Regions from separate parts of the Homo sapiens genome. Here region 1 is linked to region 2. The links come from fine-mapping of genetic effects on plasma protein levels. A gene starts in region 2. The other region holds a variant in brackets. All regions are shown on one strand. Distances are from middle to middle.

Region 1 (5,385 bases), 67 kb after region 2:
CATCTCTATCACACACAAAAAAAGCTGGGAGTGGTGGTGCACATCTGCAGCCCCTGCTACTTGGAAGGCTGAGGTGGGAGGATCATTTGAGCCCAGGAGGTTGAGGATGCAGTGAGCTGTGATTGCAGCACTGCACTCCAGCCTGGGTGACAGATCAAGACCTCGTCTTAAAAAAAAAAAAAAAAAAAAGAAAAGTACTCCAGTGCTACAAGGTGGGAAACCCAGCATATAGGGCATCCTCAGCCAATCTAGGAAGGGGGCCCCCAAAAGGGCCAAGCCAGTCTGCACAGTGACCTAGCATCTGGCAGCTTCACAGAAAAGTAGACCAGGGTCAAGCCTTGAAGGGTGAAAGTCAGCCCTCTGAAGCGACTCTATGTGACAGAGACCAGGAACAGCAGGAGTGAGATGACCTGACTCCAAGCTTCTCCTAGTTTAGAGGTCTGTCTCAGCGCTCCTAATTCCAGACTACAGAAGCCAATCTAACTGGTTTAATGAAAAAATAGATTTATTCAAAGATATTATGCAGTTCACAGAATTTCCAAAAGAGCCAGAGAATTGGAGTCTACACATCTGGAAATAACGCTCACAGACCACACTGCAGGACTGCTCCATCAGAGACTACCATGGCCACTAGCATGGGTCCCAGTCTCCACGTACAGCTTGTACTGCAGAGCCTGGGCACTGGACATTGCTGCTTCTGTGAGCTCGCCTGAAGGTGGCCAGGGACACAACTCATTGGATGTGGAGCTCTGCCATCGTCTTATATTTAACCCTGGTTTCAGAGCTCTCTGTCTTACAAGAGAAATGGGAAAATAAATTATGCGGCTGCACCTTGCCAGGTACAATGGTAAGGAAAACTAAAGGGAGATCTAGAAACCAGCCTGACATATTAAAGAGGGCTTCTGCAGAGGTGAGCTTAGTCTGAATTATGGAAGAACTTTCCAGGCAGATACAAATGCAAAGGCCCTGCAGTGTGAGGAGCTAACCACACACAAGGATGGAGAGCAGTTCATAGTGACTGGAGCCCAGGGTGCAGCTAAGGAGCTGGAGAGGGGGAAAGGCCATACCAGGGAGAGCCTCATACCAAAGAGTTTGGACCATTAAAGGATTCTAGGAAGTTCAAGCTGGAGACAGCAAGGAAGATGTATTGGAAGTGGGTGAGAGAGGGTATGGAAGATGGTTAAGACACTCTTGGAGTAATCAAATGAAAAATAATGAAGGTAGAAACTAAAGCAGGGATAAAAAGGATGGCACTGACTCTAGATATGTTGAGTGAAATAGATGGCATTTGGGGACAAATAGATTACAGTACTAGGGAGAGGGATTTGAGACTAGGATAATTCCCAGTCTCTTAGATGGTGAGGTGATTGGTGTTGCCACTGAGTACAGAAAGGAAGGAAGTAGAGGAATGGAATCAGATTTAGACAGTTAGGGATATTTTGAAGTTGTGATGTCTAAGGAAGCCCAGTGAAGGTGTACAGTACGTGATAGGAAATACGAAGCTGAAAATCAACCAGAGGTTTGGAAGTAGCCAGGAACCCTAATTAGAAGAACTACATACGGACTCTGTCCTGATGGCTTAAAACCCTGCAGTCTCAACTAAGTGGGTTCTTTCCATCCCTCCTGTGTGCCAAGCAATCTTACATTGTGCATACAAAGATACCTTGAAAATATCTTTTTGATCAAATTTTCTTGATGGTAGACCCCCCACCATACCCAAGCAGAGGATCATTGTCTTCAACATATTATGGAACAAGCCCATGCTCATAGATCTGGTGCAGCCATCTCTTGCCCTTCACTTTGTCCCAGCTTGAAAGCTATTAATGCCATTGACTTTCTAGCCAAAGGCTGGAACCTAGTACTTATTTCTCTTTAACTTAAGTTCCCTTTTAGAGATGAAACTTCTAGCCTTGGTGCGGTGGGAAATTAAAGAAATAAAGAAAAATAAAATTAAAAAGAGAAAGAAGTAAGCTTTCCTGTATTAGGCTGACTCATCCCAAAGGCAGTAGCAGGCAAGGCCCAGACCCAGGAAAAAGAGTCTTGATAAACACTATCTAAGAAGCTAGGACACAAAGGAATGTGCTCTGGAGACTCTCCCAGCACTCCCTCAACATAAGGAGAAGAAAAACAAATTTTCCTTTCTCTTATAGTATGAGTTTATAGATTTCTGTTCTCTGTAACTAGCAACTTCAAGCATTCTGTTTTATCTAAGTAGTGGAGTGAAGGTCATAAACTGTCTGAGCAGGCCTGAGATACAGCCACCTGGACGCCATAGTGAAGGTCATGGAATAAGCTGTGCTAGGCACTAAAGGAAAACCTAGATAACTGACATCTGGGTTGCACAGCAACGGTCATGTGTAATCCTGAGTTATGAACCTGTCACAATTTGATTAATTGCTCTGCCTCTGTATCCTTGCTTTCACACCACTGTAACTGTAAGCCTGCTTCAAGCTAGCCCACTCCCTTTTTGAAGTGTGTATAAAAGTCAAGTGCTGTCTTTGTTCTAGGCCCAGTTTTCCAGATGTAAGTCTGAGTACACTCAATAAAGATCCTCCTGCTTTACCCCGAAGTCTCTCTCATCCGCCTGATTCCCGCGACATTGGCACTAGCCATAGATTAATCATTATGGATGGAATTGCTTCACCATGTGGCTTTTATTTTCATCCTGGACAAAAATTAACCATTATGGCTGGAACTGTTTTCACCACGTGGCTTTTATTTTCATCA[C/T]AACACTGCTGAGGCCATTAGTGAGACATTGGAAAATACTAAAAAATAGAAATTGCTGTTTATCATTAATATTTTATTGATTTTTGTTATTTAAAATAACACAAAGCATTGTGTAATATTGTAGTTTCCAAGCATTCTAAGTTAATGTGGTACGTTAAACCCCACAAATTTTGCATTCTCATCTCATCAATACTACCATGTTTTTCCATGATGCTCATATATATAGAAGAAACCATTTGGTGTTTCTAGAAGAGATCTGAGATCTGACTGCCTATCCTGATTATTGTTCTGGGAAGTTCTATATAGAAAATATAGTGTAGGGCTGGGTGCGGTGGCTCATGACTGTAATTCCAGCACTTTGGGAGGCCAAAGCAGGAGGATCACTTGAGCCCAAGAATTCAAGACCAGCCTGGGCAACACAGGGAGACCCCATCTCTATAATAACAATAACAAAAATTAGCCAGTCACAGTTGTGTACACCTGTATTCCTAGCTACTCAGGAGGCTGAAGTAGGAGGATTGCTTAAGCCCAAGAGTTCGAGGGTACAGTGAGCTATGATCATGCTACCCCCACCTGGGTGACAGAATGAGACTCTGTCTCTGAAAAAAGAAAAGAAAAGAAAGCCAGTCTTGGCCACCCAGAATCTCCCATTCCAAGGTATTTATTAATATATCATTCAGACAAGAATAAGCACAAATATAGTATATTTTATATTTTCATAATTTATTTTGATATTCACTGTAATTGCATTTCTTTTCTTTTCTTTTTTCTTAGACAGACTGTTGCTCTGTTGCCCAGGCTGGAGTGCAGTGGCACGATCTCAGCTCACTGCAACCTCCACCTCCTAGGTTCAAGCAATTCTCCTGCCTCAGCCTCCCGAGTAGCTGGGATTACAGGCACCTGCCACCACGCCCAGGTAATTTTTTTGTATTTTTAGTAGAGACAGGATTTCACCATATTGGCCAGGCTGGTCTCGAACTCCTGACCGTGTGATCTGCCCGCCTTGGCCTCCCAAAGTGCTAGAATTACAGGCATGAGCCACTGCGTCCTGCCTGTAATCGCCATTTCTAATTCTTTTCTTCCTCTGACTACAACTGTGTTTTCTCCCTAGTACTTCAATGAGACTCTTGTGAAGTTCACCAATAACCCCCAAGTTACTAAATCTAGTAGTCAATATCCGGCCCTCACCTTCCTCATATCAGCAGAATGGGTGGTTCTGTCTTTCTTTGACACACCAGAATATAGCACTTTTCCACTTCTGCTGCACTTGGCTGCTCCTTCTTAAGCGCCTTTGTTCTTTTTTCCTTGACCTCCTAAGACTTAGACCTTGCTCTGCTTCTTTGTGTACACTCACTTTTTAGAGGATCTCATTTAGTCCCATGTTATTTATTTATTCATTTATTTAAGACAGGGTCTTGCTCTGTTGCCAGGCTGGAGTGCAATAGCGCAATCTTGGCTCTCTGCAACCTCTGCATTCCGGACTCAAAGGATCCTCTTACCTCAGCTTCCCAAGTAGCTGGGACTACAGGCATGTACCACCATGCCTGGCTAATTTTTGTATTTTTTTTATAGAGATAAGGTTTTGCTATGTTACCCAGGCTGCTCTTGAACTCCTGGACTCAGGCGATCTGCCAGCCTTGATCTCCCTAGGTGCTGGGACTACAAGCATGAGTCACTGCGCCCAGCTAAGCCCCATGACTTTAAAAGCCATTTCTATTCTGACAACTTCCCAATGCGTTTCTAACCTTTATGCTGAACTGCAGACTCAGAATAAGCTTCTTGGATATGGTATGACTGAAATTTATTTTTAAAATTTTCCCGCAAAACCCTCTCCTTCCACAATTCTCCCCATTTCTGACAGTTAGAACTCTCTCTATCCTGTGGCTTAGGCCAAAATTTCAATGCCATCCTTGATTCCTCTTTTTCTCTCATATTCAGTCCATCAGCAAATCCCTTCTGCTCTACCATCAAGTTACATCTAGAATATGACCACTTTTCACACCTCCACTGCTCCTTTCCTGGACCAAGCCATACTTATGCCATACCTAGATTACTGTATCATAACTGACTTCCTATCTTCAGCTTCTGCCCACCACAAAGTATATATAGACAAGCTAGCCACTCTCTAGCAGGAAAGACCTGGAACACAGCTGTGGATTTGCAACTAATGATGTCTGTCATGAAAATAACAGGTTTTGCTGGTTAGATGAAAGTGTCCTGTAAAGAAGGCTCTTTTCAAACAGTTTATGCCAAAATTTGGGAAGAAAAGATGGAAGTGGGTCATCTAGAAGTTACGTGAGATGAGCTGGGCACAGTGGCTCATGTTGTAATCCCAGCACTTTGGGAGGCCAAGGCAGGGGAATGACTTGAGGTCAGGAGTTCGAGACCAGCCTGGCCAACTTGGTGAAACCCCATTGCTACTAAAAATACAAAAAATTAGTCAGGTGTGGTGGCGGGCACCTGTAATCCCAGCTACTCGGGAGGCTGAGGCAGGAAAATAGCTTGAACCTGGGAGGCGGAGGTTGCAGTGAGCTGAGATTGTGCCACTGTACTCCAGCCTGGGCAACAGAGCCAGACTCAAAAAAAAAAAATTTATATGATATGGTAAATCAGAGCATGCATCCTGTGTAGTGGCACAAGGCCCCACAGTCAAAAGGG
Region 2 (5,385 bases):
TCAGGAGATCAAGACCATCCTGGCTAACACAGTGAAACCTCATCTCTACTAAAAATACAAAACATTAGCCGGGCGTCATGGCGGGCGCCTGTAGTCCCAGCTACTCAGGAGGCTGAGGCAGGAGAATGGCATGAACCCGGGAGTCGGAGCTTGCAGTGAGCCGAGATCACGCCACTGCACTCTAACCTGGGTGACAGAGCGAGACACTGTCTCAGAAAAAAAAAAAAAAAAGAGAGAGAGAAAAAAGAAAAAGGAAAAAAAATCTTTGTATCACATGTTAATGCCTACTAGAAAGCATCCACCAAAGAAAAGGCACTAAATAACCAACAAAATGGCTCAACCAGTTTGGCTCAACAAAACGATTGAGCCAAAATGACTGAGTCTCAGTCATCAGCCACCCCACTGCTGGCACGATGGGCACAAGAATGAAGTGACCGTGGTAACAGAGATAGAGGCCACCCATGAGGCCAATAGCACAGACCCCGAGGCTTATCTAGCTCCCATCATTAACAAATGCCCAACCTGACAGCAGCTGACACTAATACTGTCCCCACAAGATGGCACAATTCCTCAAGGAGACCAACTAGTCACTTAGTGGCAAATTAATTACATCTGATTCTTTCACTCTTTGGAGGGTCAGTGGTCTATTCTTACAGGAATAGACATATTTGAGGTATGAGTGTGCCTTTCTTGCCTGCAGGGCCTCCATTAGCACCATAATCCAGAGAATTATAGAGTGCTTAATTATCTAGCAAAGATCACATCCTGCCAGACAAGGGTGCCCACTTTACAGCAAAGCAGGCCCAGGAGTGGGCCTGTGATCATGCAATCCCCTGGTCATATCACATACCACACCACTCAGAAGCTGGTGGACTTACAGAATGTTATAATGGGCTGCTGAGGACAGAGCTGAGGTGCCAGTTAAATGCAAAACTTTGTGAGAATGGGGTGCTATCCTCCAGGAAGCAGTATATACATTCAATCAAAGACTTTCATATAGCATTATGTTCCCAATAGGAAGAATACCTGGGTCTGGGAACCAAGGAATAAAGGCAAGAATTACCACACTTACCATCACCACCATTGACCAACTGGGGGCTTTGTGCATCTTGTCTCCACAGTTGTAGACTCTGCAGGGTTCGTTATCTTGGTCTCCAAAGGACTATACTTTCACCAGGGGCAAGCAAGAGTCCCATGGAATTATAAACCAGAGCTGTTGCCTGGGGTACGCTGGGCTCTTTGTGTCTAGGAACTAGCAAGAAAGAGTCAGAATCCACAAGGGTAATTGGCCCTGATCATTCCGAGGAAGTAGGGCTGCTATTACTATAATGTGGGCAGGGAGGAAGATGTGTAGAACCCACATAACCTACTGGGGTACCTCTTATTTTTTGCTTTTTTTGGTTTCTTTTTTAAGAGAGGGTCTCTCTTTGTCACTTAGGCTAGAGTGCAGTGGTGCAATCATGGCTAACTGCAGCCTCAACCTCTCCCTGTGTTGCCCAGGCTCATCTCAAACTCCTGGCCTCAAGCAATCCTCCTGCCTTGACCTCCCAAAGTGCTGGGATTACAGGAGTGAGCCACCATGTCCAGCCTGCCTCTTGTGACAGTAGGGATAAAAATGGCAACTTTTGCCTGAGAAACAAAAGGTAACCAGGGGCTCAGACCACTCCTGAAAGAGAGTGTGGGACATGTCATCCAGTAAGTCACCGAGACCAGCAGAGGTGGGAGGTCAAGGTAAAGGGAATCTAAAATGGATAGGAAGGGGGCCAAGGGTAAGTTTCAACTACAGCCCCAAGATCAACTGCAAGGGTAGGAGCTGTAGTTTTTCCCATTAACTTCCTCTTCTAAGTTTTCTCTCAAGAATAGGGACCCACTGAAATGTTTAAGGAGCCACTCCTGGAGTGTATATGGAACATAGATCTAAGAGGTGCAAGTATGTACTCTGAAAGACACAGAGATGAGTTTCCCAGAACCCTTGTCAAGGAAGGTCTTGCTACCTGGCTGTAAAGAGTGTAGTCAGAAGATACCTCCTCCTGATAGCACATAACTGTCAGATCCTTCTGTGTCTGCCTTAGCTACAGAAAACTGTCTCACCTAAGTGTATGCCCTTCCTGGGCAATATATAGTAGGGGACCAAGCAAGGCAGAATATAATGGCCCAGCCATTTATACTGAAATCAGGGGCACTGTGACAGGTCACACTCACTCCAGTTCAACTTCTACCTCTGTTCACCCCTGCTTCCCCTCCCTTCCTTGTATGGATATCGATCCCTAACAAACACTTGTGCCCCACACTCACTGTCTCAAGTCTGCTTCTGATGAACCCAACTGTGTCAGCATTTCTGCTATCACAGATTTATTTCATAAATAGATAAACCCTGCATGATAGTTGGTACTGGCACAAGAATACTTGTTTTTAAAATTTCTTGTACTCCAAAAATACAATTTGATCACAGCACAACAAATGCATGGTAAAGAAGCTGGTTTCTAGAGTTTTAAATGTATTTTGCAGCCTTCACTATATGGTCTACTTTTATTCTTACTGTCTCCTAGTCTTCAACCTTAAGTTTAAAAAATTATATTTTTACTGTACAAAAAAAAAACCAAAAAATTGCTTCCAATATAATTTCTGTCTTCCCTGGAATACAGAATTGAGTCATTGCAATTAACAGGGTGGGAGGAAATCAGTCTCTTCTGGTGGAAACAAGTTCCTATTGGTCACCTCCCTCAGCTCTTTAATGGGAAGGCCATTTTTTGGTTTCAGTTACGGTAAATCTCTCTGGATTTCAGCCAAATTCTTTCAGAGTTCAAAAGTACAAAGCTCTTTAGGAGGTTTGTTCTTTTGAAACATTTTTTCAGAGGTTAAAAATTAAATTTCAAAAGAATACCTGGAGTGGAAAAGAGTTCTCAGCAGAGACAAAGACCCCGAACACCTCCAACATGAAGCTTCTTCATGTTTTCCTGTTATTTCTGTGCTTCCACTTAAGGTTTTGCAAGGTAAGTAATTCAACCTTTATGCAAACAATTTTAATTGATAATTTAAAGGTTGTAAAAACATAGAAAATAATCTTAAATATATAATTTTGATTTAAATATTACATAGTTCAGTTACAACAATGCCACTCTATAGTCAGCAACAAATGTTTTATGTTAATATCTTGATAAAAGTGATTTTTTAAAAATAGTTCTTTTTATGTGCTTATATATGCAGAGGCATTGAACTGAACAAGAATTTTACTAATACAAGGCTGTGATTTACTGTAATTGTAGTAAATCAAAAATATTTACCAGGCTCCTCCTGTGTGTAAGGTACAGTGCTACGAAGACAGTGAGACTGATCTCTTCCTTCAACAGCCTCTTAGTACGCTCTATAGTTATAGAAAGGGGAAATAATAAGCAAATTTGAAACATCTGAAAACACAAAAGTGCAAGTTACAAGACAGTATATATTTAATTGTCAAAAGTGATACAAATATGTGGTAAAGGACTTCAATGAGAGGACAAATCACTTCATGCTGAGAGGTCATGAAGAGATTATAGATCAAGTAGGATTTGAGCTGAACGTTTAATTCTGTATTACATGTGATCAGTGGTGAGAAAGAGGAGTGATTTCCAGCTTCTTTAGCCAGGAAAAGCAGCAAGTGCTACCATAGGAAGGCAGCAATGCACTAGGCCCCTCCAAATAAATGAATCCATTTGATCAGAATGAAGGCTTTGTGGGCTACAAAGGAACTCGAAACTGAAATGACATATTTTATTGAAGTTAGAGTGTCATCTATTAAGGTGAAAAATGTTTAAAATATTTTGGATACTTATTGATGATTGCCAACTTTGGTGGCAATCCAAAACTATCTTGTCTTAGTGCCAGCTTGTAGAAGAAAATATTTAAAGAAAACTACTTAAGAAAACACACTTTAAGATTCTTGTAACTTCTAAAATAGTTGCCATCATTGCAATGTTTATAATAGAGAATAAATGGAAATAACTAAATGCTTATTAATAAGACACTGGTTAAATTATTGTATATCCAAAATTGAACTATTACATAGCCATTGAAATGACATATTTATCTAAATAAAAAGTCCTTACTACAATTTTATTTTTATTGAAGAAAAACACACACACACATATGTATGTGTGTTTATATGCATATATATAAATGCATACTTATACCTACTTATATATATGACTAAAAGATCTTACAGTGTATGTATCAAACAGTTAATAGTTGCTATCATTGGCTAATAAGATTACTGGTGATTCTATTTTCTGTTTTCGGTTTTACTGAACCTACTCAGACAAGGAAACTAGGGGATTCAGAAAAGATGGAAAAGAAACCCATAGCACAGTGGGAGTGGCTGCTGGGGCCTTCTAATGGGGGGAATAACCAGAGGATGTTCAACAACAAGGAAGCTGACTAGGTGTGGGGGTTCACGCATGTAATCCCAGTACTTTGGGAGGCTGAGGCAAGAGGATTGCTTGAGCCCAGGAGTTTGAGGCTGCGGGGAGCTCTGATCATGCCACTGTATTCCAGCCTGGGTGACACAGCAAGATCCTGTCTCAAAAAAAAAAAAAAAAAAAAAAAAAAAACAGAGAAGCCAAATATTTCAGTCAACATGATTACCTACCATAATTGTGCTGTGACGTAATCACCAACTGATACCCTAAATTTTATTTTACCCTAAAATTTTATTACAAACTCAGGCACATATGGGTGGCATTTTAGAGAGAAAGAACTGGGGTAATGTTAAGCAGAATGACAACATCCTGGAAACAAGGGTGGCACACAGGAGGGTGTGCAGTGCAAGTGATGGCAGCGGAAATGGCAGAGTAGGCAGATCCACCAAAACCAAAAACCAAAAATCCATTTCTACAGAAACCAAAGGGAAGCTGTCAGAACCAACTTTATTTAGAACTCTGGAAAACAGTCAAAGGTTTATAGCACCTAAGAAAATGTTGAATGCAGGAACAGGCAACTAAAAATGGTATGAAAGCTTAGTAGCATTTTGCGTGTCTGTCCTTTGTGTCCTTGCCCCATACCCTCCCTAATTTGGCAGTGGTCTTGAAGGATATCTGAGTACATAAAATAGCCTTAACACAATAACAACAAATTTTGGTTTATTAAAACAAGTTCACACATTGTCATTAAAAAGACATTTTGAAATTCACTGTATTCTCATTACCTTAGTTTGCAAATGTTAAAGCAATTTTCTTCTAAAAATACAAACTGTTTCTCTTACTATGCAGAATATTATCCTAATCACTTACCACACTTCTATCACCCTATCACTTATAATACTGTTGTAAACCAACCACTAAGTGGCCTTTCCACTTACAATTTCTTCATGTATCTTAGATTTCAGTTTCTTAATCTTCCATGGGAAAGTAT

What was found. PIP is the posterior inclusion probability: the model's chance that the variant is causal. Protein levels are from the aptamer-based SomaScan assay of Sun 2018.
Region 1: its variant is fine-mapped to the plasma level of the CFI protein (Sun 2018, PIP 0.95).

The regions. Positions count from the first base shown.
Region 1 is chr4:109,732,917-109,738,301 of GRCh38, reverse strand. It overlaps a transcript of CFI not described here. Among named protein-coding and RNA genes, the nearest start is that of PLA2G12A, 5.5 kb to the right of the region's middle. The variant C/T (reference allele first, on the strand shown) is at 2,728.
Region 2 is chr4:109,799,523-109,804,907 of GRCh38, reverse strand. It overlaps CFI (complement factor I), which reads left to right and starts at 2,909. Exons shown (of 13, transcript NM_000204.5): 1 at 2,909-2,993. The coding sequence starts at 2,937. It overlaps LOC124900757 (a long non-coding RNA gene), which reads right to left and starts at 1,236. Exons shown (of 2, transcript XR_007058226.1): 1 at 1,073-1,236.